Homo sapiens: one gene and its partners. The protein of the gene in region 2 interacts with the protein of the main gene of each other region in a biochemical or structural test. Each region holds a gene or a part of one and is shown on either strand. Other genes may lie near its edges.

Region 1 (4,609 bases), on a different chromosome or scaffold from region 2:
ATGGTACAATCTCGGCTCACAGCAACCTCCATCCCCCCGCCTCTCCCCCAGTTCAAGCGATTCTCCTGCCTCAGCCTCTCGAGTAGCTGGGATTACAGGCATGCGCCACCACACCCGGCTAATTTTTGTATTATTAGTAGAGACAGGGTTTCTCCATGTTGGTCAGGCTGGTCTCAAACTCCCGACCTCAGGTGATCCACCCACCTCGGCCTCCCAAAGTGCTGGGATTACAGGCATAAGCCACCACGTCCGGCCATAAATTTTTTTTTAAATAACAAAACTAAACTTTGTATTTATTTATTTTTTTACCTGAATCAGCCTGGGTCCCTTCCACATTTTGAGATACAGATTCTTCGGCAGTGCTACAGCCATTAACATTTCCAAATGTAATCCGTGCATTTAAGACATGAAACAAGGGAATTTCTAACAAACAAAATAAAAACTTTTATAAGTAAACTTTACTGAGAATAACAATAATAGTTATCATTTACTAAGTGCTTACTATGCCAAGTACTTTGATAAGTATAATTTTATTTAAGCCTCATAACAACCCTTCCCAATACACAGACGGGAAAACTGAGATTGAGAGTTGTGTATTTTCGGTCAGGCGCGGTGGCTTACACCTGTAATCCCAGCACTTTGGGAGGCCAAGGCGAGCTGATCACCTGAGGTCAGGAGTTCGAGACCAGCCTAACCAACATGATAAAACCCCATCTCTACTAAAAATACAAAAATTAGCTGGGCGTGGTGATGCATGCCTATAATCCCAGCTACTTAGGAGGCTGAGGCAGGAAAATCGCTTGAACCCAGGAGGCAGAGGTTGCAGTGAGCCAAGATCATGCCACTTCATTCCAGCCTGGGCAACAGAGCGAGACTCCATCTCAAAAAAAAAAAAGAGAAAATGAGTTATGTATTTTCTCCTAGATCACAGTGAGTAAGTGATCAAGCCAGGGTTCAAGTATCATGAACATACAACTATCCAAAATTAATACTCTTCATGAGTAGTATGTATGATATATACATATATAGCATTATGCATACTAGCTTGGGACGTAGATCATATTTACATATCAAAGGATCTTGGTGTCAACTGTCTTCCTCAAATAATTATCTAATTTGAAGTCTCACTGAATTAAGGTTTGACATTAAAACAATGACTGTGTCATGTTTTTATGCCTTTTTATATCTGTCAGCACCATTTGCAAATAGAAATGATGGTTGGAGATCTCTTGACTTTGATACACAAAATGAACCACTAATCATAACACTTCTTTAAATCAAACCACAGGAGAACTCTGACCTCCTCTGTTATGTCTATAAGCTACTTTGACCTAAAGCACTCCAATTCCCTGAAGCATCCTGCCACCCACATGCTGCCACCCACAAACATGGGCAGAACCTCCAAGTGTTGCTGAAGTTTATTTAGCAGTACCTATTTTGACAGGAAATCCAGGTGGGAATTCCAATTTGATGAAATCTCTCAGTCTTGCAAAATGAGCACTCGTTCGAGCCATTAGGTCAATGATGGGAATGACCTGCTCCACCAGAGAGAGGGGAAACTCTTCACACATCCACAACATTGCTTTAAACCTGCAGAATTCAACCAAGAAAAGACTGAGGTCATCTCCACCAGATGGGAAAAGGAGATTATTGCTATGCAGTAGGCTAGACAACAGCAGCTTTACTCCACACTCTGCCCAGTCATCTCTTAATTCAGACCTATTAAAGGTCAAATGTCTAGGGCCACAAGGAATTCACATCACCCTAAAATCTGGCAATAAAGGCAAGCGACCTGCATGACAACCTGCCACGATCAAAGCCTTAATTGACAGCAAGCATGAAGAAATGATAGCGGGTGGAACAGTTTCATTTGAATTTGATCAGCTGAAGCTGGTTAGCAATAAAAAAAAAAAGGAATTCTTACATCCAATCTAGATTCTATTTGGAAAGGAGCTAATAACATGGACAATCTACTGTTAGCTTTCATGGCAAAGTAATTTTAAAATTATTTTTTATAAAAAGGGGCAGAGGAGGCTGGGCGCAGTGGCTCATGCCTGTAATCCCAGCAGTTTGGGAGGCCCAGGCGGGCGGATCACAAGGTCAGGAGTTCGAGACCAGCCTGACCAATATGGTGAAACCCTATCTCTACTAAAAATACAAAAATTAGCTGGGCGTGGTGGCACGCGCCTGTAGTCCCAGCTACTCAGGAGGCTGAGGCAGGAGAACCGCTTGAACCTGGGAGGCAGAGGTTGCAGTGAGCCGAGTTCGTGCCACTGCACTCCAGCCTAGGCGACAGAGCGAGACTCCGTCTGAAAAAAAAATAAGGGTGGTGGGGAGGGCAGTGGAATGATCCAACATAACACCATAAAACAGCACAATTTCTGAAACATACATAGGTTGAAAATGGCAGCTGAACCTCTCTTACTTCTGTGTTCTAATCGTCAGCTCTTTCGGCCTTCCAATGTCCCTGTCTTTCAGATCAAACTCTTCATTGAAGTACTCATCAGGCGTGATGGCTGTGGGGTTGTTTGCAGTAGCACATTCCGTGGTGAGGTCCTGCTGAGCCAGAACTCAGGAGAGTCAGAAATGCCAAATGATGTTCACAAGTGAAGGCCTGTGGCACTCAGTGTCTGAGGTGGACGTGTTAACCAGCTAAAGACCGGGAAGTTCTATTCACTAACTTTTTTGCATGGAACAAGAAAATCTATGAGGATATCACCAAACTACACAGGAAGTGTAATGGATTTCTTCATTTTAAAATATTTCTCTACTCTCCTTTACATTTTTATCTCCTGATTATAACAAAGAAAAAAAGAAAGAAATATCTGAAAGTGCATGAGACTTGGAAGACTTGGAGTTGAAGTTCTAGCTGTTTCCCTGTCTAGCTTTGATAGTGGAAAGGTAATTTCATTTTTCTGACCCGCAGGGACATCCACTGTACCAAGTTCATATAGTTACTGTGAGCATCAAGTAAGAAAATATTTGTTAAGGTGCTCTGTTGCAATATAAAGTCCTGAATCCTTTTTAAGTTCCATTTCTATAAAGAGGCCCCTCGTTTATAATGGATAAGAGGGAAAGCACCTGATTTCTATAATCACTACCCCTCCTCTAAAATCCTTATTTATTTTCAAAGAGTCACTCATCTAATTCTCTTCCAAAAGAGTATCTCAAATTCCAGCTTGGGGGTATCTTTGGCCTTTACATAGAGTGGGCTGTTCAGGATCCAGTAAATGCCATCCCAGACACAGACAAGTTGTTTCCTTTCATCTAACTGCAATGAAAGCTCATTGCTTCAACTTACCCCTTGTGCACCAAATTGGTGTTCCACAGTTCCCAGCAAAGATTCCAGCGGGTTCCTGTCTGCTACAGAGGGGTAGGGAGTTTAAAGTCTAATATTATATCTCACTTGTGGCTATAAAAAAAAGATCTTCATTAAAGTTTCTGGTCCAAGCTACCTCATTAGGAAATGCAATTACAGACTGGCTGATCAAATCATTCACAATAACCATAAACTAATTTATCCTTTATAGGGTGCTTTTCATGAGGATCTCTAAACTAGATAAACAGTTGTAAGAATTAAAGCAGAATAATGGGAAGAGTCTGGATTTTGGAGTGAGCCAGACCTGGATTCCAACCCCACCTTGGCCACTCGCTACCCATGTGTTCTGGGCCTCAGTTCCCTCATCTGTCAAAGTGGAGTAATGGCAATGGTGGTGGTGGTGCTGGTGAACAATTACTGCATGCTTACCACATACTGCAGGCGCCATTCTAAAGGCTTCCACGTCGTAACTCATCTAATCCTCTCAATAACTCTAAGGAAGGTTGGGTATCACCTGCATTTCACTGCTGAGGAACTAAGGCACAGAGCAGAAGTAATTTCACAAGGCCATAGAACTGGTGGGGCTGGGATGGGGCTGGGATGTGGCAACCACATGCAATGTTTTTGCTTGGACCCCAAGTTCTGTCTAAATCTTTCATCACAATAGTTTGGACTAAATCACTCATTCCAATGATAAATATTCTCAAATGTCCTTATCTCCTTTTTTGGCTGAATTCAACAATTGTTCTTGATAACACATAAACAAGCCCTCACGAATAGCTTTAATTACAGCTGAGGCCAACTATGGGGAAACACCTCCAAGAATGAGTCAGACTAAGGAAATTTTCTTTCCTTTTTCTTTTTTTTGAGACAGAGTCTAGCTCTGTCACCCAGGCTGGAGTGCAGTGGGACAATCTTGGCTCACAGCAACCTCCACCTCTGGGGTTCAAGCGATTCTCCTGCCTCAGCCTCCCCAGTAGCTGAGACTACAGGAGTGCGCCACCACGCCTGGTTAATTTTTGTATTTTTAGTAAAGATAGGGTTTCACCATATTGGCCAGGCTGGTCTCAAACTCCTGGCCTCAAGTGATCTGCCCACCTTGGCCTCCCAAAGTGTTGGGATTACAGGTGTGAGCCACCGTGCTCAGCCAGGAAATTTTTTTTTTTTTTTTGAGATGGAGTTTCACTCTTGTTGTCCAGGCTGGAGTGCAATGGCACGATCTCAGCTCACCAAAACCTCCGCCTGCCAGGTTCAAGTGATTCTCCTGCCTCAGCCTCCTGAGTAGCTGGG
Region 2 (3,338 bases):
CAGGGGATCTGTTATCTCAATGCTTACTATTGCATGAAATCATACTGTTTTATATCACATGATAAACACCAATAGCAGGGGGCGAGTCTTCTAGTACCGACTGAGGAGATTCCCTATCAAGAAACTCACAGAATTTTTTAAGTTTGTGTTAGGTAAACTACAAATATCTGAAAGTATTTCAACTTGTTAGGTTTTACACTCAAAAGGATAAGATTCTTTTGTTTCTTCCTGGTTAGGCTTTTTAGAAATTTCAAATCCCACAGCCAAGCTTGGACATATCTTGCCCATATCTAAATCAAGAGATTATAGCTATTGTTTGGTTTTAGAAACTTTGGTGCTATCAAGCCTAAGTATATGATTAAATGATATTAAATGCCAAACAATAAAAAATACTTCCCACAGGTATATATAGAGAGAGAGATTTTAAAATAATCATACACAACTTTTTAAAAGATTATATGGGGAATACTTACTTATGTAATCAACTCTAACTTTAGCCCTTCACAGCTGTATTATAACTTTATTTAACAACTTAGTAAAAGTCAAAATTGATGGTTCTTAACATTGTATGTTGAGAATATAAAGTGCCTAAAAAAGACACATTCTGCCCAATGCTAGTTCTTTCAATATTACCACCAAACTTCTGTGAAAGACTTGTAATGAAAAGAAAGACTAACTGCAACATGGAAGATGATTTTTAAAAAAGTTCATTTGCCAATTTTAACAATCTAGAAAAAAAGAAAAGTCTGACTATAATACTTGATGACACAGACATTATGTTTAAGTAGAAAACACAAGAATAAAAAAAGCAATTATCAGAAAATATTGCACAACTTCAGTTGTTTCCTCCAAATTTGCTTTATGTACTTGGGTGGATATAAATTAATAAACAGAAATTTAAGCAAGATACATGTAACAATTTAACAGAACCTGATAATCTAATTTCTTTCAATTTTTCTCAAATTCATCTTTAAGTCTTTCCATCATGGGGCTCATAAGGAAATTTAAGCAACATATGGATACTACAGTTGAATGTCAAATCTTTACAAAGTACTTATGACATACTACATTCCTCTATAATGCAATTATGAATAACCTTCATGACACTGTGTTTTGTATGTAGAAAACTGTTAGAGTTCAATATTCAACTCAATATAAAATAATAATAAGAAACACTTCTGATGTTAGGTTGAGACCACTTTTCCTTTTGCTAATGAATGATTTTTTTAGCTGTAATATCACTGAGGTGAACCAATAAGTCACCTTTGAGTACATATGAAAAAATAAACACATGCTAAATGGATAAAACATTACTACTACATCTTTACTAGACCATCTCTACCTCTAACACTTCAGAAGCTTAGAGATTTAAAGTATTCTTACATTAACTGCAAGAAACAAAGGAGAAATTCCTTCTTTTTTGAGATCACAACTATGAAGTCATATGGTTATACAAATTCTGCGTTTGTGTGCAAAACATAAAATACAATTATCTTTATTCTCCCTGCTTAGTTTTGTCAGTCAGCTAGCAGGATGTAATAGATACCTTTCCAAGAAACAGAGACTGAGATGTGTTTTGTATAACTTCAATAACCTCAGCACTACAGTAATGAGAGATGCAGTATCCTTTTGCTATGGTTCAAGACAAGAGGCAAGGAGGTCAGAAGAAAGAGAATAAATCAAAATTTTTACAACTGAGTAACTATTTCTCATTAGGTCTCACCACGGTGCCACCTTCATTTTTACATAAACGTGGTGGCATAATTCAATCTCAATAAATCAGAATTCTTAATATTTAAAATTTAACTTGACTTTCCATTATCACCATATTAACAACCAAAATAATTAGATAAAACACATAGGAAAGGGTAATATTAAACCCCACCTTAATAGAGTTGGTTTCTTGACACATTAACTTATTTTTTATAGAAAAGGGATAGTGCATCTCAGTTTGCTTACAAGCTAGGAGATCACTTTGAATTCTGCATTTCCTAACTGCAAACAGAATATAGCACTTATAACAGGTTATAAATAAACTGGTTTTCAAGCATAGAGCCAGCCCCAACGATAATAATACACTATTTAAAAAGACCTAAGGCAATGAATTCCATTTCCAATGGAAAAAAAGAACTGTGCAAACAAGCTTAAAACTACTTTTTTGTGTGTGCCAGTGTTATAAAATGTAGCTTTTAATAAAACCTTGACCCAAATGCCAGCAACTTCAGAAAAGAATTCGGGTGGGGAAGGGGAAGAGAAGAAAGTTATTTCATTTAGGAAAAATAACTACTATCTTTTTCCTAATCTTCAATACACACAATTTAAACAAATACAGCTGCTGTTAACACTTTACACAATTCCTATGTACTGGAGCAATAACAAGATCTAAATACAATTATATTTTTAAACATTGGGTCAAGGCTTTACATAAAAATACCATCCTACTTTTCCCACTAAGTTTCTAAAATATCACGTACTTTTTCCCCCAACATCTGCAGCCATCCAGGAATTTTAAGGAAACTTTTGTGCACGATCTTAATTCCTAATCCCTGGCTCTTTGGGCTCAGTGACAAAAGATCAAAACCACCAAAATGGTGGTTCACTTGAAGTCAGATAAGAGACCCTGGCTCAATTAGTCTCATAGGATGAAAGCAGTGCTGCATCAACTGGCTCCATGCAGGAGGGGCACGTGAAGGATCTCATCAACCAGTCATCTATACAGTCCAGGTGATAGATGTGCATGCACGGCAGAAATCGAATTGGGTCCCCATAAACAAAGTCCATCATACAGATCACACACCTGTTGAGAGCAATGGAGAGAAATCAGAAGGCATTTTCAGAAGTGTCCTATTCAGAAAACTCTTTAAATCCCATTAAAGACAGTGTTAATCTGAGTAACACATCAGAATGCTTTGCCTGTCATCTTATTGCCAAAGCATGCAAACTGAATTTTTTCCTAATGTTGATCTGTCCACAGTCTCTTATTTCAATCCCCTGAGAATTTGCAGGACTTAGGAGCAATCAACAGAGCAAAGAGAAATGGATTACATATGCATCAAATCTACTGCTGTGCTTGTAAACAGCTACATATTATAGCAGATACCTGAAGGAGAATGGGATTATTTTAGGTAGAAAAGCATCAGTTAGATCAACTTTGTTTTCTTGCACTATTTAGTGTAATCCTGGACTAAGACAATTTTCATTTTAGTAACTGTAAAACAGAAACACTAACTTCGGGCAACTTTGTTTCCTTGTGCTATTTAGAGTAATCCTAGAGTAAGATAATTTTCATTTTAATAACTGTAAAAACAGAAACACTAACTTCAGCCTACTTACTGGGT
Region 3 (3,968 bases), on a different chromosome or scaffold from region 2:
CACCCAGTGACAACTCAGGGGCTGAAGAGATGGAGGTGTCCCTGGCCAAGCCCAAGCACCGCGTGGTGAGGCCTGTCCCCACTTCTGCCTGTGCCTGGGGCTGCCTTGGACTGTGGAGGGCTGGGTGGGTCATGGGGTCCCAGCTCGGCCCAGGAGACACTCAGCACTCCACGGCATCTCCACCTAGGCCGGTTTTCCATGTAGGGCGCAGCTGCTTCCCAGGTGGGTCCTCTTCCCCATGTCAGAGGAAAACTGGGGTTGCTGAGCCCTGCCAGGCTTGGGCAATGTTACCCCACCCTTCCCTGAACCCCATGCTCTGAGCTGGGGCCGCAGCCATGTGTTCCCTGTAAGCCTGGACTCCCCGCTGAGCCCAGTAGGCCACCAGGTGTGAAGTGGACGCCTCTCCTGGCTCTGCCTCCGACTCTGGGGCCCCTCATGCCACCCCACGCATGCCGACCAGCTGGGCACTGTTGGCAGCGCCGCTTGCTGACCCTGGTGCCTGCCCATAGACCATGAACGAGTTTGAGTACCTGAAGCTGCTGGGCAAGGGCACTTTCGGCAAGGTGATCCTGGTGAAGGAGAAGGCCACAGGCCGCTACTACGCCATGAAGATCCTCAAGAAGGAAGTCATCGTGGCCAAGGTGGGGCCGGGGCGGTGGGGCAGGGTGGAGATGAGGGTGCGGGGTGGCAGCTCACCCAGCCCTGCTTTACAGGACGAGGTGGCCCACACACTCACCGAGAACCGCGTCCTGCAGAACTCCAGGCACCCCTTCCTCACAGTGAGTGGGAGCCCAGATGGGGCTGAAGGGCTGGGGCCAGGTAGCGACTCCTGGGGCTGTCTCTAGGGGACGATGTCCTGTCTTCTTGGGCACGTGAGGGCTTTACACACCGTGGACTCCGCCGCTGGTGAGACAGGCCTGCCCTGGAGGGTCAGGCTGTGGAGGTGCCCAGTGTGGGCTAGGGGCTGTGCTCGCTGCTCCCGTGTGCGGGCAGGTGGGTGGGGCAGGTGGCCCTGGTCTTCCTTGCACTCTGCCGAGGCTCCAGGAGGCCCCAGCTCCCCATGCCCTGCAGCCCTGCCTGCCAGGCTTTTGTTGAGGCCCGGGCTCTGTCCTGCAGAACCTGTTCTGGGGACTTGGCCCAGGAGGTATTTACTGTGAAGGGGGCCAGGGTCCAGCCACTTGGTTAGTTCCAGGTCACTGTGTTTGGGGACGATTCTCCTGCAGATGGGGCCTTTGCTTTAAAAGCACAGTCGCCTGTGGTGGAAGGCGGGAGGGTGGGTCTCGCCTGGGAGGGTGTGTCCTCCCTTTGCGAAGGCCCTGGTGCTGGGAGCACTGTCCCCTGCTGAGGTCCCAACTCACCCTGGAGGACCTGAGCCCAGGCCACCTTGCTCACCTTTCAAACACTCCTTGGCACCTCAGGGGCTGCCGGGGCCCAGCCTGATGGTGGCGTGGCATGAGGCAGTGTGGTGTGGGGCAGTGTGGTGTGGGGCAGCGTGGCATGGGGGCAGTGTGATGTGGGGGTGTATGGTGTGGGGCAGTGTGATGGGGTGTGTGGTGTGGGGCAGTGTGGTATCGGGCGGTGTGGTATCAGGCAGCGTGGTGTCGGGCAGTGTGGTGTGGGGCTACGGGCGGTGTGGTATCAGGCGACGTGGTATCAAGCAGCGTGGTGTCGGGCAGCGTGGTGCGGGGCTGCCGTCCTGCCTGTGGGGCCGCAGTTCCAGCTCCCCTTCCTTGCAGGCCCTGAAGTACTCTTTCCAGACCCACGACCGCCTCTGCTTTGTCATGGAGTACGCCAACGGGGGCGAGGTAGGGGCTGGGGCTGCGGGGGATGGACTTCGCGGCCTGTGGGCCGCCCATGGTGGGGCCGGTCCTTCCCGGAGCCTCGGCTACTCTCCATGGCACCAGACGGTGCTCCCTGCTGGGTGGGTGGTGTGATGCCTGCCCAGGCAGCTGCCTGCTGTGGGGTGACTTGTTCCTGCTGAGTTAGGGCTTCTGAGACTTTCCAGGCCCCCGTGCCCTCTGGTGGCTGGTCCCTTCCCTGTGCAATGCCGAGACCCGGTCTGAGAAACCCCAGCCCTGCAGGCCATGGGGGCAGAGGCCCGAGCCACGGCTGTGCCTCAGGTTGCGCCTCCCGCAGCTGTTCTTCCACCTGTCCCGGGAGCGTGTGTTCTCCGAGGACCGGGCCCGCTTCTATGGCGCTGAGATTGTGTCAGCCCTGGACTACCTGCACTCGGAGAAGAACGTGGTGTACCGGGACCTCAAGGTGCGCTGGCGGGCAGGCAGGGGGGCAGGGCCCTGGGGGCCTGGCGGCACTGACCTGAGGCCACCTTTCCCCTAGCTGGAGAACCTCATGCTGGACAAGGACGGGCACATTAAGATCACAGACTTCGGGCTGTGCAAGGAGGGGATCAAGGACGGTGCCACCATGAAGACCTTTTGCGGCACACCTGAGTACCTGGCCCCCGAGGTGTGCGCCCCACCTGCGTGCATACGCGTTGCTGCGTCCCCACGTCCTGAGCACACGCAATGCTGTGTCCTCTCTGTGCCCCAAGCACGTCACACCTCCCCCGGCAGTGTCCCGGACACCCCTTGATGCCGAGTCCTGCCCATCTGCCACCCGTGCAGGTGCTGGAGGACAATGACTACGGCCGTGCAGTGGACTGGTGGGGGCTGGGCGTGGTCATGTACGAGATGATGTGCGGTCGCCTGCCCTTCTACAACCAGGACCATGAGAAGCTTTTTGAGCTCATCCTCATGGAGGAGATCCGCTTCCCGCGCACGCTTGGTCCCGAGGCCAAGTCCTTGCTTTCAGGGCTGCTCAAGAAGGACCCCAAGCAGAGGTGAGGGCCGCCCATCCCAGCTACAGGCTACACCTCCATCCCCTCATCCCCAGGCTGCACCTGCCCCTGCGCCAGGCGGTCCTGGCACCTCCCAGACTACACTGATAGCCAAAGCTTGATGTCCTTGGCCAGGGCTGATCTCCAAAGCCTCAGGCCCAAGCAGAGTGGCGGGCAGGCCGGGGTCAGTTGGGCCTCTGTCCCCAACCCTGCAGCCTGCACCCACCCACTCAGGAAGCCCCTGCCCTGCCGTGAGCTCTGTGGTGCTTTGCTACCCACAGCTGCTCAGGGACGCTGCACCACCGGCTCCCCTCCCTGGCCCCGGAACGTCCTGTCTGGCGGGCCCTACATCACAGGAGGAAGGGGCCTGAACCCAGGGCCTGGGCAGGTGGCGGTACCGACACTGTGGCCTTGTTTCCTGCCTGCAGGCTTGGCGGGGGCTCCGAGGACGCCAAGGAGATCATGCAGCATCGCTTCTTTGCCGGTATCGTGTGGCAGCACGTGTACGAGAAGAAGGTGCGGCTGCTCCCCGCATATTCACGCGCACGCATGCTCCCCACATATCCACACTCACGCATGCACGTGGCACGCTCGCCAGATTTCCCACACACTCGCCCTCACCTCAGGAGCCTGCTGCAGTCCTGGTACAAGGAGGGCCTTGCTGCACCAACCTCAGCGCCTGGTGCTCAGAGGCTCTGGCACTGCCGGGTTCCACCAGGAAACTGGCCTGGTCCTCATTTCCTCCTCCCCTCGGAGGTGTGTCACACTCTGAGTTTCCTCCTCCCCTCGGAGGTGTGTCACACTCTGAGTGCCAGCCTTGGGGTTCCCTTCCCTGACGCTGTGCAGTGAAGGCTGGCTGGTGGTGGACCAGGGGTGCTGCCCCTTGGCCTCCACGAGTTCCTCCTGTTTGACCTCAATCCCTTCTGCCGCAAGGAGAGCCCAGCCCTATTTCTGGCTGTGCAGGGACAGGGACAGCACCTACTTTTCTGGCACATGGGGGAGTCCGCCCTGGAGGGAGGCAGCTCTTTCTGCATGAGTCGCCATCCTGGGTGCTCATCTTTCAGGGACCCTAGGAGCCCTGGCCATCACCCCAGCTGATGGGGTCTGCCAGCTGGGTTCGGAAGCCTGCACT
Region 4 (4,609 bases), on a different chromosome or scaffold from region 2:
GTTAAGCACTGAATATTGCCACCCACTTTTGCAATGTTTGAGTTTCAACACTGATTGGTATGAATTCTGAATTACACAATTAATTACTGTTATTTTTCAGTCTTTCTGCCATGTTCCATATAGAAGGCATGTATTTAATATGAATACTTAACACAGCAACATTATTTGTAGCAAAGTCACTTCCCTGTGTTCATTTTTCCTTTAAAGGCACTACATTTAGAAAAGTTATTACAACAAATAGTGCTTTGGAAGATCTGAAACTCCAAATCAATGTGCTCCATCAACCATAAGTAGATCTAAGAAGCCCTGACTGAAAATAACACAAATGTAAAAAGTTGATAAATTTAAAGATTATAAAATTGGTTTATTGTAAAAGCAATTCAAGAATACCCAGTTAAAATCTTATCCCAATGCTACCCAATACAACCAAGAAGCAGTTAAGCACTTTTACATTAGGAACAAGGACATAAAACAAGAGACCACATCAAGGCTATGATTCAAACTCAAAAAGGGAAAGGACTCTTAGGTCTCCTTCAGGTCAGTACAGAGGGCATCGTAAGATCAAAGCACTGTGCCAGGTATCACAGTACTGCTACAACACTGAGGTATAACTGGGCAAATTAAAGTTGAGGGGTAAAGGAAGATCTCCATATTCATATTGTTTTGTGGGTGTACTTAGGTGACTGAAACTCTAGAACAGCTGCCTTTAATGGCAGCACGGTGTAAGACAAGTCTTTATTAAAGAGAAAGAAGTTTATAAAGTTCTCTATCAAGGTCCCCCTAAATCTTCACAACCCCCCCCCCAAACTTTCCCACCCTCCCCCTAAGCTAAAGCTAATCTGCTGATATATAAGATATAATCTTAATCTGTGGCTACTGGCAAATTATAGGCACTCCTTCCAAGTAGCTTTGATCTTCTGCACATTAAAAAAAATCCCAACAACATGCTATGTAATTCATATACCCAATTTTGCATTCTAGGTAGAATTTCATTACTACTCTAAAACTCCATCTGCAGTGGCCATTTCCCCCCAGACTTAATTCAAGATTTAATCTTTCTGCTGTTTTCTTAATAAAAGCCTTAGAGTCAATTATTATGAGTGATCAACCTATGAACTATTATATACAACACAGTGATTGCATTTTTTTGAGCACTGAAAGTACTTAAAATAAAACTTCTTACTTCCAACTTTTGCCCTCCTCCAAATTGAAGGGCCAAAATACTTAGATTTTGTAATTGGGGGGAAAAAAATCTATCTTCCCAAGCTGAGGCTTTTCATAGCAGCTTTTGCCAGGAGAAGAGATTTTATGCCTGTTATGAACCCTTGAAAATAAGGGCTTATTCTAGAAACATTGAAAGACCCTTAAAACACAGAGGTGCTAGCTGGTGCCACTTTAATTCACAACCAACTATTACTTCATAGCTTATATTGAAGAGTTAATTCATGCTCGTTTTGTTCCTTTAAAAAATACTCTTTGGAAACCATTATTACTCCTGTAGACACATACTCTAGTTACATCATCTCTTCCTGTAAAAATAAAGGTATAATCATGATTATCTCTATTTCTTTGCTAAATTCAACTACCAATATACATTTATTAATCTGATCACTTTTCCAGCTAACTCAAAACCTTATAGTATTCTATCCAGGGTCAATTTTCAGCATAGAAGTAGGAGCAAGTCTTGTAAGTAAGAACAATCTTGAAGGCAATATTTTAATCTAGTCGTTAATGTGTTCATTACAAATGAGAACTACAAACTAGAATTTACTTCCAAAACTAAGGCAAAGAAAACTTCCAAAGCTAAATGAAGGTAAACCACTATAAAGCTTATTTCTGTCATGCACATTATGAACCTACTCACTGAATTCCAATCGAGACTTAAAAATTAGTCCAAGGGAGAAAATAAAGCCATTTCTGGTTTGCTCCTTTCCAATTCATCAGATAATATCTACCGTATGCCCAGAGGGCGTGGAGCACTCCCCTAGGCACTATCCACAGTAATAGCTCTTTCTAGAACACTAAACTACTTCAAACATCTGCAGACTGCCCCAACCAGATTTAAACTACCAGTGAAATATAAACTACTAGTCATGTATTCTAAATGCATACAAAGCGCTACCATTTTAAAAATTAACTGGAAAGCAGGGAAACCTAAAAAAGGATACATTCCACTACCACACTATTATAAATGTTATGTTTGGGTGTGTGTATGTATATAAAAGAGAGAGCAGATAATCGAGATTTAAATAAGGTGGTAAAAAAAACCAGGAAATGAAGATTTTACCAAAACAACTACAATAACCATCCCAAGCTACAACTATTAACAGATTCACTAATATGGTCATTTGCCTAGGTTCCGACAAAACCAACCAACCAACCAACCCCCCCACCGACCCTGCCAAAAACAAAAAAAACAAAAAACCCAACAAAACAGAACAAAATGCACACCCACAAAATTATCCACCAAAATCTATATTAGAGTATGTGGCAATAATTAATATATTTATATGGAAATTGTCTCATGCCTTATAAGCTCCTAAAATAAAATCAAGGTCATTATGTGACTAATGATAGCACTAGGAGGAAAAGAAAATACTGAAAGTAAAACAGTCTTCAGCCTTGGTTTCAGCTATCTCTTCAAATCAGCATTAAGTATTTAATATCAGATATAACATTTTTGGCTTGTCAGACCAGTAAATCATGTTTTTCCACTGGACAAAGGAAGCTGAAGAAACAACTGTTGAACAAACTAAATGCTGTGACATGAAGCATCTGACTTCTAAGTCTGAGTATTTAGTTAAAATGATTGGTGAACATTTAACTGGGCAAAAGGAATGGCATCCATCATCCAAACAGGCTCACTTCCCCCAGCCCCCAAAATGAACAGTAGTTTTAATAGCAAAAGAAATAAAAAGTTTTTTTCTTTTGATTCTTTAGAGCCAACTGTGAAAGAGGTCAGCAATACATTAACAGCAGCAATGGACAAGGAAGAGCAAAATAGAGGATTAAAGTATCTTGCTGGACGTTTGTTCATCTTTTTCTGTATTAGCCTGAAAACTGCAACTGGCTTATGGAAATTTCCGGTGCATGTGTCTCCTTAGATCCTTCACAGATTTAGAATTCAGTCTGCCTGAGGGCTCTATAACCATGTAAGAAAGCTTTCTTTATCTAGCTTGGTGGCAGCCAAAACAGACTCCATGTCATTAAGGATGTCAGAACTCAAAGCTTCCTGCAGACTTGGCATCAGCTCCTCTCCTTCTATGTTCATTCCATCTCCTTCCAGTGTTCCAAGGTCCACATTTGTCCCAGGAATGGCTTCAAGGTAGTCTGGGAAACGGTTCTGCTGTGAGGGCAGGGTGCTTTGGTTGATAGTATCACCTAGTGGAAACACACAGAGATAACAAAGTCCTTTTTGAAAAGCTAACATCAGGGCTGTATCATATGAGCACAGAGAAATGCACAGGGAAAGAAAAGCGCTCCTGACTGACCTAAACTGATACCTAGAATTTATATCAGGTCAAACAACTCACAGATAACAAAATAACAATGCCAAGTTTACTTTTGCTTCAACATTGTTCAGATATCCAATAACAGCTTGATTGCTATTATGTGCTGAGCACTAAAGGAGTCATGAAAAAAATAAAAAAGCCCTTGAAAAATTATATGCAGCAGCGGGAGAAAGAACAAGTACACAACACGACAGCATCACTACCCTGTCTTCCAGATAAGCACCACCATAATAAGACTAAACATAAACATGAGTGGTATAGACCTACCTTGGCCTTAAATATACTTTGGGAAACACTAAAATAGAAAGACTGCAAGAATACTTTATTCTACCCTTAGGAGATGCACCTTCCTAACAGCAAAACAAGCCTTCCCAGAGGGCTTTGAATAAATCCATCTTCCTAGCCTTGCTTCTAGGTTTCCCAAACTTACTTGGCCACAGAGCCTTTTTTGCATATGACAACATTAACACTCCTCAGAGCTTCAATAGAACATACTTTCAGAAAAACTAACATAAACCATTAAGTGCTACAGGGGTCTGGAGAAGAGAGCAATACAGATTAGAGGAGTAAGTAAAGGTGTTGTGTGTGAAATGGGTTTGAAGTGGCTCCTAAGGATGATTTAACATCTAGATAATCAGAGAGGAGGGGTAGTGTGGATTCTAGAAAGCATCAAAGCCAGGAGCTGGATGAATACAGGCACAAAAGCCTTGCTAAACACTTTCAGAATAGAAGCAGTTAGTGAAAGAGTTGGTAGCTAAAGAACAGCTTCATTTCCCTGCCAATTCATGCACTCTGGCAGTTGTCAACTCTAGGGCAATGGTTGCCAGGTAAGCCACAGGAGAAATGCTTCCGTAATTACCCCTGTGAGGCAGGTATTTCTTAGCTCCTGCAAGACCCCTGCAACTATTCTTTTTTTTTTTTTTTTTTTTTTTTTTTGAGACGGAGTCTTGCTCTGTCACCCAGGCTGGAGTGCAGTGGTGTGATCTTGGCTCACTGCAACCTCCGCCTCCCGGGTTCAAATGATTCTCCTGCCTCAGTCTCCCGAGTAGCTGGGATTACAGGTGCATACCACCACATGTGGCTAATTTTTATATTTT
Region 5 (4,609 bases), on a different chromosome or scaffold from region 2:
TGTCTTTACAGGGACAATTATACCCTACAGATAAATCCAAACTCTGGATTGTGTAACGAAGATCACCTCTCTTACTTCAAGTTTATTGGTCGGGTAGCTGGAATGGCAGTTTATCATGGCAAACTGTTGGATGGTTAGTATTAAGTATAAACTTTTTACAATATAATTACCTGTTTTCTTTCACTTGGTAATCATCCTAAATGTATTTGGTTTTTTGCAAGGTTTTTTCATCCGCCCATTTTACAAGATGATGCTTCACAAACCAATAACCCTTCATGATATGGAATCTGTGGTATGTCTTTTTCACTTATAGTATAGACGAAGTATAATTTAACAAGCAGCTTGAACATTTTGAAGAATTTGCTTTTAATGACATGGAAATTAATATATTATCATGTTTCAAAATACAAATGAACTTTTTCCTCAACATTTTATTATGAAAATTTTCTAACATATAATAAAGTTGGAAGAATTTTACATTGGACAGTTGTATATCAACTACTCACAATTGCTTTTTTTCTAGATTTACTTTATCACATACCTATCTGTCTATCCATCAGTCTGTCTTAGTTTCTTCATGCATTTCAGAGTAAGTTATAGATAACATTAAACATCCCACTAAATACTTCAATAGGTTATACCAAGTTATATGTCTTTTGAATCAGTATTTGCATTATGATCTTTTATGATGAATGTTATATATATATATATATATATATATATATATATATATATATATTTTTTTTTTTTTTTTTTTTTTTTTTTGAGACAGAGTGTCACTCTGTTGCCAAGCTGGAGTGCAGTGGCGTGATCTTGGCTCACTGCAACCTCTGCTTTCCAAGTTCAAGCAATTCTCTGCCTCAGCCTCCTGTGTAGCTGGGACTACAGGCGCGCACCACCACACTCAGCTAATTTTTGTATATTTAGTAGAGACGGGGTTTCACCGTGTTCACCAGGATGGTCTCAGTCTTTTGACCTCGTTATCCGCCTGCCTCAGCGTCCCAAAGTGCTGGGATTACAGGCATGAGCCACCGCACCTGGCCAAATGGTGTATATTTTTTAAATGGCAGTCGAAAGGCAAAGCGTTATGGTTAGGTTCCTAGAAAAAAACAGAAGCCCAAGGATTAAACCCCGGACTGTAGCCGTGTTGTTTCCTGTGCTGCTGAATAGCCTCACACAATGTGTGTTCACATGAATTCCAGGGCATCTTCCTTAGTACCAAGTTCATTTTTTATTCTTTTCTTATTACATATTAACAGCACAAACAGTGTGATTCTTTATAAATCATAAGATTGCACAGTTACTTGAGTTGGTTCATTGAGCCTCTATATTTATTAAGAGATTTTTCTTTAACTCGGGCTGGGTATAAACAATGGCCTCCTCATAGCTACTTAAACATTTCACACTTAGTGCCGGACACAGGGGTGTGCAACTGTAATCCCAGCACTTTGGGAAGCTGAGGCAGGTGGATCACTTGAGGTCAGGAGTTTGAGACCAGCCTGGCCAACATGGTGATACTCTGTCTCTACAAAAAATACAAAAATTAGCCAGGCGTGGTGGTGCGCGCCTGTAGTCCCAGCTACTTGGGAGGCTGAGGTAGGAGGATCACTTGAGTCAAGGAGGTCGAGGCTGCAGTGAGCCACAGTCGCCCCACTGCACTCCAACCTAAGGGACAGAGCGAGACCCTGTCTCAAAAAAAAAAAAATTAAATTAAAAAATAAAAATAAAACATTTAACACGAAGTCACATAGGCATATGAGGAATGTGCTAAGTGCTCCTGGATATCCAGAGAAGTTAGGTTTTATCTGAAAACTTCTGTATTCATTCCTTTAACTGGATGATAAAATCTGTACCTCCACTGCTTCCACATAAACATAGATTCTAAACTTTTAAGTAGGCACCAATTGATTAATTGATTGATGCATTTTTACTCTTGCCCTTACCTGTCATCCATCTCTTTTTGTAATACACACACATACACACATACATTTTTGTTTATATATGTGTGTAAGTAAAGGATGTCCATCTGACCTCTCATCTTTTACCCAATTATTCAGACCCTCTACATACTGTTTTTTGCAATTTCAGGTGTGTTATAGATACAAATTTTAAATATGTAATTTTTCCCATCTAGGATAGTGAATATTACAATTCCCTAAGATGGATTCTTGAAAATGACCCAACAGAATTGGACCTCAGGTTTATCATAGATGAAGAACTTTTTGGACAGGTTTGTGAATTTTGATCAGTTAAAATGGCACATAAATTGTGAGACAAATGTTTAGATGTTAATACGTACACTTAATACATTCCTAGGCTCTGTTTTTACATTCATTTCCCAGTAACAAAAGCTGTCTCTGAGCAAGAATTTGTACTTTCTTTAACATTTGACTCGTTCCATATTTATTTTAGTAAAACTAGTATTTTAAGTTTTCTTAGTTTTTAACTTTTGACTGGACTTAATTTAAAACACCAAGTTTCTCGTATAACTACAATATGTATACTTTTTAAATTTTTCTCGCTAAAATAACATATCAAGTTATTGTGTTTAATTTTAGACACATCAACATGAGCTGAAAAATGGTGGATCAGAAATAGTTGTCACCAATAAGAACAAAAAGGAATATATTTAGTAAGTATTTTATTAGTATGTATTTTATTGGATATAATTTTGTACTTTATTCCAGAAAGACTCTTCTTACCATCTTTCTCTGTCCCCTTGTCCAGAATCTCAGTGTTCTTTTTCTCTATCACAATGCAGTAGCAAGCACTCATATTCAGCTTTTACCTTGGTCTCAGCTAGCCTTTAGTTTTTGTTTCTAACTAGAATAATTGTGCCTCAGAATTTTGTCTTGGTTCACATGAAAATGAAATGTTGTTTCTTTTTAGTCTTGTAATACAATGGCGATTTGTAAACCGAATCCAGAAGCAAATGGCTGCTTTTAAAGAGGTATTCATTTTCTTTTATTTGCTCTTCCATAATGTCACAGTATAACCTATAAGTTTCAAATATTAGGCCTCATCACATCTGAGAAAAATAAGTATATGGCTTGTTTTGTGAAATCATTCTAAATTATATTTTTATATTAACTAAATATTCCATTCAGTCATTCAAGAAGTCTAGACAATAAACATGGACAGGTCCCCTTTCCCCCAAGCCTTTTCCCTATTCCATTCTCTTCACTTTAGGACAGCAAAAGAACAAGAGTGCTTTAGGGATAGTATAACATATTGTTTGTTTTTCTAAATAGGATCACCTTACACATTTTGTTTTGTGACTTACTTTCTTCTTTTTTTTTTTTTTTTGAGCGCGGAGTGAGTCACTTTGTCGCCCAGGCTGGAATGCAGTGGCGTGATCTCGGCTCACTGCAACCTGCACCTCCCAGGTTCAAGCAATTCTCCTGCCTCAGCCTCCTGAGTAGCTGGGATTACAGGTGCCCGCCACCACGCCTGGCTAATTTTTGTATTTTTAGTAGAGACATGGTTTCACCATGTTGGTCGGGCTGGTCTCAAACTCCAGACCTCAAGTGATCCATCCACCTTGGCCTCCCAAAGTGCTGGGGTTACCAGTGTGAGCCACCGTGCTCGGCCTACTTTCTTCTTTTATCAGATATTTATTAGGGATATTTACATGTGACGACATATAGCTGCCTTTCTTTGTGGCTATATTTTATTCAGAATATAAATTAAAAAGTTACTTAAATTTTTCCAATTGGTAGACAGATTGTCAGAGCACTCATTTCTTAAGCTAACTTACAATCTTCTGTTAAATATGTATCTGGCTGGGCATGGTGGCTGACGCCTAAAATCCCAACACTTGAGGAGGCTGAGGCGGGAGGATTGCTTGAGCCCAGGAGTTCGAGACCAACGTGGACAACATAGGGAGACCTTATCTCTATAAAAAATTAAAAATTTGGGCGCGGTGGCTCATTCCTGTGATCCCAGCACTTTGGGAGTCCGAGGTGGGCAGATTGCCTGAGGTCAGGAGTTTGAGACTAGTCTGGCTAATGTGGTGAAACCCTGTCTCTACTAAAAATACAAAAAAATTAGCCGGACGTGGTGGCGTGCACGTGCAGTCCCAGCTACTCGGGAGGCTGAGGCAGGGGAATTGCTTGAACCTGAGAGGCAGAGGTTGCAGTGAGCCAAGATTACGCCACTGCACTCCATCCTGGGCAACAGAGCGAGACTCCGTCTCAAAAAAAAAATTAGCCTGGTGTCATGGCATGTGCATATGGTCACAGCTACTTGGGAGGCTGAGGCTGGAGGATCACTTGAGCCTGGGAAGTCGAGGCTACAGTCAGCTATGAGCTATGATGGCACTACTGCACTCCAGTCTGGGCTACAGAGTGAAACTTTGTCTCTAAAGTGTGTGTGTGTGTGTGTGTGTGTGTGTGTGTGTGTGTGTGTCACATACTTTTTCATAAATTCAGTATTGAGTACTATGTGTATGGTGCTGTACCAGGCCAAAAGACATAGGTCCTGTTATTAAGGTATGTATGATGTAAAGAGTGAAATGAACAGAGGCAAGCATAAAGTGCTAGGTGAGCACAGAAGAGAAGTACAAACCAGGGAGGGGCAAAGGAAGGGACAAAGAAGGACTAGAGGGATT
Region 6 (4,609 bases), on a different chromosome or scaffold from region 2:
CAGAATTCAGTAAATATTAATTGAATATCTATTGTGCCAGGCAGTGTTCCAAATGCTGAGGATATAGCAGTCCATAAAATAGACTCAAATCCATCCTCTCATGGAGCTTAAATTCTGAACAAAATAAGTAGAAATGAGATTTGTTAGTAGTGCTGTGGAGATAAAGCCAGGGAGTGGGGATAGGGAGTGTGCAGGGTAGGGTTGAATGGGGTTTGCAATTTCAGTTATGATGGCTTCACTGAGAAAACATGAAGATCTTAGGAGCTGAGGGAGCAAGCCATATGGATATCTTGGGGAGGAAGAGGAAGTACAAAGCCCTTGAGGTGAGCGGATGCCTGGCACGTTGAAGAACTACAAGGAAGCTAATTTTTGTCTGGAACAGAGAAGGTTAGGGGATGGAGAGAGAACAGCTGAAGATAAGTCAGAGAGGTAGGTGGAGTGAGGGCATCATATAGAGCGTCTTTTGGGGGCCCATTACAAGGACTATGACTTTTTTTTTTTTTTTTTTTTTTTGAGACGGAGCTTCGCTCTTTTGCCTAGGCTGGAGAGCAATGGCATGATCGGGGCTCACCGCAACCTCCACCTCCGGGGTTCAAGCGATTCTCCTGCCTCAGCCTCCCAAGTAGCTGGGATTACAGGCATGCGCCACCATGCCTAGCTAATTTTATATTTTTAGTAGAGGTGGGATTTCTCCATGTTGATCAGGCTGGTCTCGAACTCCTGACCTGAGCCGATCCACCCGCCTCGGCCTCCCAAAATGCTGGGATTACAGGTGTGAGCCACCATGCCCAGACTTTTTTTGAGATGGAGTCTCGCCCTGTCACCCAGGCTGGAGTGCAATGGCACGATCTCAGCTCACTGCAACCTCCGCCTCCTGGCTTCAAATGATTCTCCTGCCTCAGCCTCCCGAGTAGCTGGGATTACAGGCACGTGCCACCATGCCCGGCTGATTTTGTATTTTTAGTAGAGATGGGATTTCTCCATGTTGATCAGGCTGGTCTCGAACTCCTGACCTGAGGTGATCCACCCGCCTCGGCCTCCCAAAGTGCTGGGATTACAGGCGTGAGCCACCGCACCCGGCTCAGGACTATGACTTTTAAAGGGTCTGTGGATAATAGACCTGCGAGGGAGGTAGTGAGGTCAGAAGCAGGAAGAACAGGTTAGGAGGCTGTTGTAGTATGCCAGGTCAGAGCTGATGGTTGCTTGGATCAGAGGTGTAGCAGTGGAATGGTGAGAAACAGTCCAATCATGAGTAGAATTTGAAGTATAAAAAAAACCAATTTGCCAATCAGGCTAGATGTGTGTGGCATATGAAGGAAAAGGTGGATCATTTGGAAAGATGGGTTTGCCAGTAACTGATGTGGGGAAGACTTTATGGGAGGAGCAAAGGTTGGGGATAGGGAGGTCATGTTAAGTTTGGGATGCTTATTAGACATTCAAGAGTGTATATCAAGCAGGTAGTTATAGAGGCAAGAGGCACGATGAGGGGAGAGGTCTGGGCTAGATATGAATTAGGGGAGGCTTCAGCTTATAGAGTGTGTTTAGTATTTAAATTCATTGCATTACATGAGATCACTGTGGAAATGTATAAACAGAGAGGAAGCCCTAGAATAGAGCCCCAGTGCATTTCAGTGTTGCGATGTTGGGAGATAGAAGAAACCAACAAGGAAACTAAAGGAAGCTGCTGCCAGACAAGGAGGAAGAGAGCCATGAGAATGTTTATAGGAAGTTAGATAAAGCTTTGCAAAGAGGAAGGAGACCAGCTGGATAAGATGTCGCATTTAGGTAAGATAAAGATTAAGCACTGGACATTTGATTTAACCTTGTGGAAATCATTGGTGACCTTAACAAACAAGTTAGCGATAACTACAGCTTGATTGGAGGGTATGTTCAAGACAGAAGAGGAGGAGAGAAATTGGAGACAAGCAAAGTAGAGGTTCCTCTTCAAAGACTTTCCTCCCCATCTAATTAGGAATAAATAGTAACTTCTCTTAGAAGCAAAATTTATTCGAAGACCTGTGCAAACATTCTTAAATATTTGCTAGCCATAATAAAGAAATCAATATACTTTATGTTCTTAGCTCCCACAATTTAGCCTAAATATTTGCCCTGGCATGCTTATACTGGTCCAAGCAAGCATTAGGTCATAGCCTGTTCCTCTTCCTTATTTAAAAGTGTTTTTACCTTTCTCAGCATTCCACAAGTTACTTCCTCCTTCCTTTGTTCCCCTCTACCTTTACCTCTTTTAAAAAGTTCTAAGTTGCTAGCCAGTCAGGACAAATACAGAATGTGAGATCCCGTTCCAGCCAGTGGAAACCGGACACAGCAGTAGGGTGGACGCGTCAGGTTATAAATGACCCTGTCTCCTTTGTTCAGTATACTCTTGTGGCAAAACTCCTGGCGAGTGTACCCTTTCTGCAGGAAGTAAAAATGGCTTTACTAAATAAATTAAATTTATGTTCAAGTGCTATTTCTTTATGGTACCGAAGAACAAACATTTCAGAGATCAGTAAGATCTAGTGCTCAAGACCGATTGGCCCTAGCCAAGAGTACGTGACATTTCATCTATACAGGAGAAAAACCAGAGTGTATGGGTGCAGATGCAGGGAAATGTCCAAATGCTACAGTGGGAACTGATGGAAGTATCTAACTTGTCATGAAATAGGAAGCAGGACATCAGCCACAAGTGAGGATGGGGATGGAGATGCTGGAGGTTTGAAGAGAGAAGAGAAATAATAATAATACAATTATTTAGGGGAGAGGGAGAATGATGAAAAAGAGAACTAATGGTATGATTGTTGGGAGTATTAAGGGTTCCTCTGAAGTTAATTGTCAATTTTAGAGTAATCAGCATTGTTAAATATATTTCTTTAGTCCTGTTCAGGTACCTGGGCCTCTTCTTATCTCCTTTCTTTAGTCCGTTACATTTTTCAGAGGGGAGGTTTTCAGTGGGTTTAAAAACTAATTTTTGGCCGAGTGTGTTGGCCCATACCTGTAATCTCAGCACTTTGGGAAGCCAAGGCGAGCAAATCACTTGAGGCCAGGAGTTCAAGACCAGCCTGGCCAACAGGGTGATACCGTCTCTACTAAAAATACAAAAATTAGCTAGGTGTGGTGGCGCACACCTGTAATCCCAGCTACTCAGGAGGCCGAGTTGGGAGGATCACCTGGGCCCAGGGAGGTCGAGGCTGCAGTGAGCCAAGATCTTGCCACTGCACTCCAGCGTGAGTGACAAAGTGAGATCTTGTCTCAAAAACAAACAAACAAGCCAAAAAAAACCACCAAAAAAGCTAATTTTACTTTTTAAATAGCTTGGTTTTGGTTGAGTTTAGAGCAAGTTGCCTTACTTATGTAATCCTAATGTTACTTTATTTTACTTGAGTAAAAAATCAGTTTTATTAAGCTAATTTTATTAACATATTTGTAGACATTTGTAGCCAAAATGTATGATAACATCATTAGTATTCGCTTGCAGTTTCATTCAGCTGGTTGTAATTATTTAAATGGTATTTTTTTGAATTTTGCATTTTATAAGCTAAATCTGTTGGGAGATTGGAGCTGTTCTATTATGCGTAGTTCTAAGAGATGAACTTTCTAATTTTACTTTTGGTGTCTAGCAAAATGACATTTGTTTCACAAATGTGTTTGTTTTTCTGTCATAGGAAACCCAGCGTTTGCTGGCAGAACCAGTTCCTGGCATCAAAGCCGAACCAGATGAGAGCAACGCCCGTTATTTTCATGTGGTCATTGCTGGCCCTCAGGATTCCCCCTTTGAGGGAGGGACTTTTAAACTTGAACTATTCCTTCCAGAAGAATACCCAATGGCAGCCCCTAAAGTACGTTTCATGACCAAAATTTATCATCCTAATGTAGACAAGTTGGGAAGAATATGTTTAGATATTTTGAAAGGTAAGTGTTATCTTTATCAGCATATGCTATTATTAAGCTTTCTCCTTTTTCTCTTAAGCATTCCATGTTTAGAATGTAAACATTATACAAAGATCAGAGAGGTCTGTGGGAGGGAAGTGAAGCAGTTCTGGGCCTGTTTTTTTCATGCTTTATCATACTGGGCCTGTTGCCTTCATAGATAAGTGGTCCCCAGCACTGCAGATCCGCACAGTTCTGCTATCGATCCAGGCCTTGTTAAGTGCTCCCAATCCAGATGATCCATTAGCAAATGATGTAGCGGAGCAGTGGAAGACCAACGAAGCCCAAGCCATAGAAACAGGTATCTAATATTCATTCTCCTTCACACCACTTCCACTTTTACAAATTTGTATTACCACTTAAACTTTTCTAAAGCTCTTGGCAAGGAAAAGAAATAGAAAAAAGTATAATAAGTGAGATCCTGCTTATAGTATGTAAATACGTCTTAACAAAATGGCTTGCTATGGGACCCCCCAAATATAAAGACAACCTGTAATTGAAAGATCTTGGAGTCTCTTGTAACTACACCTGGTTTAACAAATACTGAGTGCATACCATTTATCTAGTTATATGTAAAGAATACTGGAAAACTTGAACTGTTTTTGTAACCCATTTGATTAAAGTATTCAGCTGTTTATGGCTACGGAATTTGGAGTCAAGAAGCTTCTGCTACAGATTTTAA
Region 7 (4,609 bases), on a different chromosome or scaffold from region 2:
TACCCTTTTCATTATGGCTTTTAGGCAATCTTTCGCTCTAAAAAAAAAAAGAGAGAGAGAGACAGTTAAGTATTTACTGATAAATTTAATTCAAACATTAAGGTATTATTCTATTACCAAATAATTTTATATTTAATGGCTCATGCCTGTAATTCCAACACTTCGGGAAGCCAAGGCGGGAGGATCACTTGAGCCCATGAATTTGAGACCAGCCTGGAAAACAAAGTAAGATCTCATCTCTATAAAAAACTTAAAAATTAGCTGGGCATGGTGGCATGTGTCTGTACTCCTAGCTACTCAGGAGGCTGAGGCAAGAGGACTGCTTGAGCCCAGGAAGCTGCTGTGAGCTGTGTCATGCCACTATACTCCAGCCTGGATGACAGAGACCGTGTCTCAAAATAAAGAAAGTATAAAATAAAAATAAACTAAACTAAAATCCTGGAAATTTCATATTGTTAAAGGAATAAATCTATAAAATGATTTTACACAATATTTTGTTTATAGGCTCATAGAACTTTAAAAAAAAAAAGCATGTTGCAAATGTTGTGTATTCCAAAATTAAGAGACAAACCATTTCACAAAAGATCTGTCAACACAAGAGACGTATACCAGATCTTTCTATTTCTTCAAGACAGGTTTAGCTTTCAAACAGCAAAAGCTTATCTTGAAAAAAATCTAACATGATATACAATTTTAAGAGGTTCAAGTATAAACATGTGAATGTACTATGAAAAGCTTTAATGTTAAAACAAATGCTTTCATCACTCTTCTAAATTTCTAACATATAGTTCAGCTAATTGCCACATCTCCCCAAAAGCACTTTTTTATATTCACTTTTTTCATTGTTAATCTATTATATTTATATGTATATTATTTGAAGACTTTTTTGTTATATTATCTACTGTGTTATCTACTTCATTATTTAAAAGTTCCCATACATATAGAAGTCCCAGAGGAATTCCTTAAATAACTCACCTATACATTGTTATCATGTATCCTATTGTGTCAAGGCTTTAATTATGTGTGTTACTATAGCAGATTTTCAGTTGAACTCTTTTTCATGTAAATTAATCCCATAAATCCAGCATTCAGGCTTTTTTAACTTTTATGTCCCAAAAGTAAAACAACTGACCCTTTAACTACATGAAAGTTAAGGACACCAACACCCCACGCAGCCGAAAATCTGTGTATAACTTTTGATTCCCCAAAAACTTCACTATTAATAGTCTACTCTTTTTTTTTTTTTTTTTTTGAGACAGAGTCTCGCTCTACCGTCCAGGCTGGAGTGCAGTGGTGCCATCTCGGCTCACTGCAAGCTCTGCCTCCTGGGTTCAAGCGATTTTCCTGTCTCAGCATCTCAAGTAGCTGGGATTACAGGCGCACACCATTATGTCCAGCTAAGTTTTGTATTTCTAGTAGAGATGGGGTTTCACCATGTTGGCCAGGCTGGTTTCGAACTCCTGACCTCAAGTGATCTGCTCGCCTCGGCCTCTCAAAGTTCTGGGATTATAGGCGTGAGCCACTGCGCCCAGCCAACTAACAGCCTACTCTTGACCAGAAGCCTCACCAATACCATAAACAGTAGATGGACATATATTTTGTATATACATAATATACTGTATTCTTACAATAAGGTAAGCTAGAGAAAAAAAAATGTTGTTAAGGAAATCATGAGTTGGAGGAAGAGGGGTTGGTCTTGCTGTCTTAGAGGTAGCAGAGGTGGAAGAAAACCTATGTATAAGTGAACCCTCGCAGTTTAAATCTGTGTTGTTCAAGGGTCAACTGTGATAAAGTCTCATTTTCCTCTCAAAGTTACATCACAAAAAGAGACACTGGTTATCAAGTTCCTAGACATTCACTGAGCATGACTGGACATCTTACCCATTAGGAGTACTTCCAACTTTGTCACATATGTCCATAATAAGACTCCAATCTTCTGTAGTGTTGTACTCATTCGTGGCTTTTTCTATAAAATATATTGGCATACACAACAATGAGGACACATCTCATATAACACTAAAATACCAGTAAAGGTCCAACAGTTAAGAAATCCTACCTTTTCTATTGCCGAAGATACTACAGACGACCTTCAGAAGACAAAAGTACTTCTACTAACTTCAATTTTAAATTGTATAATTAAATGAACTAAATATCTTGAGGTAAAGCAATAAAATGCCTTCTAAATAAACAAATTACTAAGTATCAATAATCCCATCAAATTCTAATTTGGAAGAAAGTTTTAAAGATGTATAATCCAGGCCGGGCATGGTGGCTCATGCCTGTAATCCCAGGCATGGGAGGCCAAGGCAGGAAGATCGTTTGAGGCCAGGAGTTCGAGACCAGCCTGGGCAATATAGATAGACCCTGTTTCTACGAAAAATAAATTTTAAAAATTAGCCAGGCATGGTGGCAAATGCCTGTAATCTTAGCTACTTGGGAGGCTGAAATGGGAGGATTGCTTGAGCCTATGACCTCAAGGCTGCAGTGAGCTATTATCATGCTACCGCACTCCAGCCTGGATGACAGGGTGAGACTCTACCTCTTAAAAAAATTAGAAAGTATATCATACAAGTAAATATGCACTACACTGTCCAATAAAGCATTGGTTTTGTAAATTTTTTTAATAGATAAGGGGTCTCACTATGTTGCCCAGGCTGGTCTTGAACTCCTGGGCTCATGGAATCCTCCTTGGCTCCCAAATGTTGGGATTACAGGCCACTGCACCCAGCCTGAAGCACTGTTTTCAATAGCAAAAAGGAAAATTGATTAATAAATTCATACAACGAAATATGAAATGAGGAATACAAAATTAAATGAACAAAAATTTATGAATCTCAAAATATGATTTGCTTGGGCTTATAACGCTGAGTCAAAAAAGCTAACAGCAGAAGAATTTATAATATTTACATGAGTTCTTTTTTTTTTTTTTTTTTCGACAGTGTCTTGCTCTGTTGCCCAGGCTGGCTGGAGTGCAATGGCACGATCTCAGCTCACTGCAACCTCCACCTCCCAGGTTCAAGCAATTCTCCTGCCTCAGCCGCCTGAGTAGCTGAGACTACAGGCGCCTGCCACCACACTCGGCTAATTCTTGTATTTTTAGTAGAGATGGGGTTTCACCATATTGGTCAGGCTGGTCTCAAACTCCTGACCTTGTGATCCGCCCACCTCAGCCTCCCAAAGTGCTAGGACTGATTACAGACATAAGCCACCGCACCCAGCTACATGAGTTTTTTAAGACAGCTTTATCGCTATAATTCATGTATCAATACAATTTACACATTTAAAATGTACAATTCAATGTTTTGACTATATTCATAGAGTTGTACAACTAACACCAGTATCTAATTTGAGAACATTTAATCACTTCCAAAAGAAATCCATACCCATTGGCAGTCACTGTTCATTCTCCCCACATATTCCCAGCCCTACGCAACCACTTGTCTACTTTCTGTCTCCAAAGATTTACCTATTCCGGATTTTTCATATAAATAGAACCACACAATATATGTTCTTTTCTGACTGGCTTCTGTTATTTGGCATAATGTTTGCAAGGGTCATCCACGTTGTAGCATGTACCAGTACTTCATTTCTTCTTATGGCTAAATAATATTCCATTGTATAGATATACCACATTTATTCATTCACCAGTTCATGAACATCTGGGTTGGTTGGTTGGTTGGTTGGTTGGCTTACTGAGACAGGGTCTCACTCTGTTGCCCAGGCTGGTGTGCAGTGGTGTGATCACAACTCACTGCAGCCTTTATCTCCCGGGGCTCACGTGATCCTCCCACCTCAGCTTCCCGAGTAGCTAGGACTACAGGTGTGCACCATCACGCCCAACTAAGTTTCGTATTTTTTGTGGAGACGGGGTTTTGCCATGTTGCCCAGGTTCGTCTCAAACTGCTGGGCTCAAATGATCTGCCCACCTCGGCCTCCCAAAGTGCTGAGATTACTAGTTTGAGCCATCATGCCCAGTCAACATTTGGATTTTTAAAAATGTTTTTGGGCCAGGAGCGGTGGCTCACACCTGTAATCCAGCACTTTGGGAGGCCGAGGTGGGCAGATCACGAGGTCAGGAGATCAAGACTATCCTGGCTAACACGGTGAAACCCCATCACTACTAAAAATACAAAAAATTACCCGGGTGTGGTGGCAGGCGCCTGTAGTCCCAGCTACTCGGAAGGCTGAGGCAGGAGAATGGCGTGAACCCGGGAGGCAGAGCTTGCAGTGAGCCAAGATTGCGCCACTGCACTCTAGCCTGGGTGACAGAGTGAGACTCTGTCTCAAAAAAAAACAACAAAAAAAAAACTTTCTGGCTAATATAAATAATGCACTGATGCGATGAACATTCATATACAAGTCTCTGTGTGGACATTACGCCTTCATTGTCCTTTGGTGTATATCTAGGAGTAGAAATCCTGTGTCATATGGTAACTCTAAGTTTAATTTTTTTAGGAATGGGCAGTTTCCCAAAGGAACTATACTATGGTACATTCCCACCAGCAATATGTGAATGTTTCACCTGAAGTTTCACAACATCCAAAAAATACACCATATTCTTTAGGGATATATACACAGGTAGTAAAAATATTAGAATGCAGGAGAATGA

What was found.
Region 1: the proteins of RNF11 (region 2) and ANKRD13A form a complex in vitro, tested with the Homo sapiens proteins (one study listed by BioGRID).
Region 3: of the proteins of RNF11 (region 2) and AKT1, one has a biochemical effect on the other in vitro, tested with the Homo sapiens proteins (one study listed by BioGRID).
Region 4: the proteins of RNF11 (region 2) and YAP1 interact in a test that uses a peptide from one of them, tested with the Homo sapiens proteins (one large-scale study listed by BioGRID and IntAct).
Region 5: the proteins of RNF11 (region 2) and NEDD4 form a complex in vitro, tested with the Homo sapiens proteins (3 studies listed by BioGRID and IntAct, with this or other methods).
Region 6: the proteins of RNF11 (region 2) and UBE2N form a complex in vitro, tested with the Homo sapiens proteins (one study listed by BioGRID).
Region 7: the proteins of RNF11 (region 2) and STAM2 form a complex in vitro, tested with the Homo sapiens proteins (one study listed by BioGRID).

What each region holds. Positions count from the first base shown.
Region 1 is NC_000012.12:110,026,459-110,031,067, reverse strand, and holds part of ANKRD13A (ankyrin repeat domain-containing protein 13A), read right to left. Parts: intron 3,364-4,609; coding exon 3,302-3,363; intron 2,560-3,301; coding exon of another isoform or gene 2,557-2,559; coding exon 2,426-2,556; intron 1,591-2,425; coding exon 1,433-1,590; intron 424-1,432; coding exon 310-423; intron 1-309. UniProt on the Homo sapiens protein: Ubiquitin-binding protein that specifically recognizes and binds 'Lys-63'-linked ubiquitin. Does not bind 'Lys-48'-linked ubiquitin.
Region 2 is NC_000001.11:51,270,610-51,273,947, reverse strand, and holds the end of RNF11 (RING finger protein 11), read right to left. Parts: intron 2,798-3,338; coding exon 2,626-2,797; 3' UTR 501-2,625; downstream 1-500. UniProt on the Homo sapiens protein: Essential component of a ubiquitin-editing protein complex, comprising also TNFAIP3, ITCH and TAX1BP1, that ensures the transient nature of inflammatory signaling pathways. Promotes the association of TNFAIP3 to RIPK1 after TNF stimulation.
Region 3 is NC_000014.9:104,771,749-104,775,716, reverse strand, and holds part of AKT1 (RAC-alpha serine/threonine-protein kinase), read left to right. Parts: coding exon 1-65; intron 66-509; coding exon 510-641; intron 642-713; coding exon 714-779; intron 780-1,736; coding exon 1,737-1,805; intron 1,806-2,136; coding exon 2,137-2,262; intron 2,263-2,337; coding exon 2,338-2,466; intron 2,467-2,624; coding exon 2,625-2,839; intron 2,840-3,264; coding exon 3,265-3,352; intron 3,353-3,968. UniProt on the Homo sapiens protein: AKT1 is one of 3 closely related serine/threonine-protein kinases (AKT1, AKT2 and AKT3) called the AKT kinase, and which regulate many processes including metabolism, proliferation, cell survival, growth and angiogenesis.
Region 4 is NC_000011.10:102,228,474-102,233,082, reverse strand, and holds part of YAP1 (transcriptional coactivator YAP1), read right to left. Parts: intron 3,382-4,609; coding exon 3,143-3,381; 3' UTR 1-3,142. UniProt on the Homo sapiens protein: Transcriptional regulator with dual roles as a coactivator and corepressor. Critical downstream regulatory target in the Hippo signaling pathway, crucial for organ size control and tumor suppression by restricting proliferation and promoting apoptosis.
Region 5 is NC_000015.10:55,836,130-55,840,738, reverse strand, and holds part of NEDD4 (E3 ubiquitin-protein ligase NEDD4), read left to right. Parts: intron 1-11; coding exon 12-133; intron 134-221; coding exon 222-292; intron 293-2,134; coding exon 2,135-2,230; intron 2,231-2,558; coding exon 2,559-2,632; intron 2,633-2,889; coding exon 2,890-2,950; intron 2,951-4,609. UniProt on the Homo sapiens protein: E3 ubiquitin-protein ligase which accepts ubiquitin from an E2 ubiquitin-conjugating enzyme in the form of a thioester and then directly transfers the ubiquitin to targeted substrates. Specifically ubiquitinates 'Lys-63' in target proteins.
Region 6 is NC_000012.12:93,410,353-93,414,961, reverse strand, and holds part of UBE2N (ubiquitin-conjugating enzyme E2 N), read left to right. Parts: intron 1-3,662; coding exon 3,663-3,909; intron 3,910-4,087; coding exon 4,088-4,228; intron 4,229-4,609. UniProt on the Homo sapiens protein: The UBE2V1-UBE2N and UBE2V2-UBE2N heterodimers catalyze the synthesis of non-canonical 'Lys-63'-linked polyubiquitin chains. This type of polyubiquitination does not lead to protein degradation by the proteasome.
Region 7 is NC_000002.12:152,148,264-152,152,872, forward strand, and holds part of STAM2 (signal transducing adapter molecule 2), read right to left. Parts: intron 1,967-4,609; coding exon 1,882-1,966; intron 38-1,881; coding exon 1-37.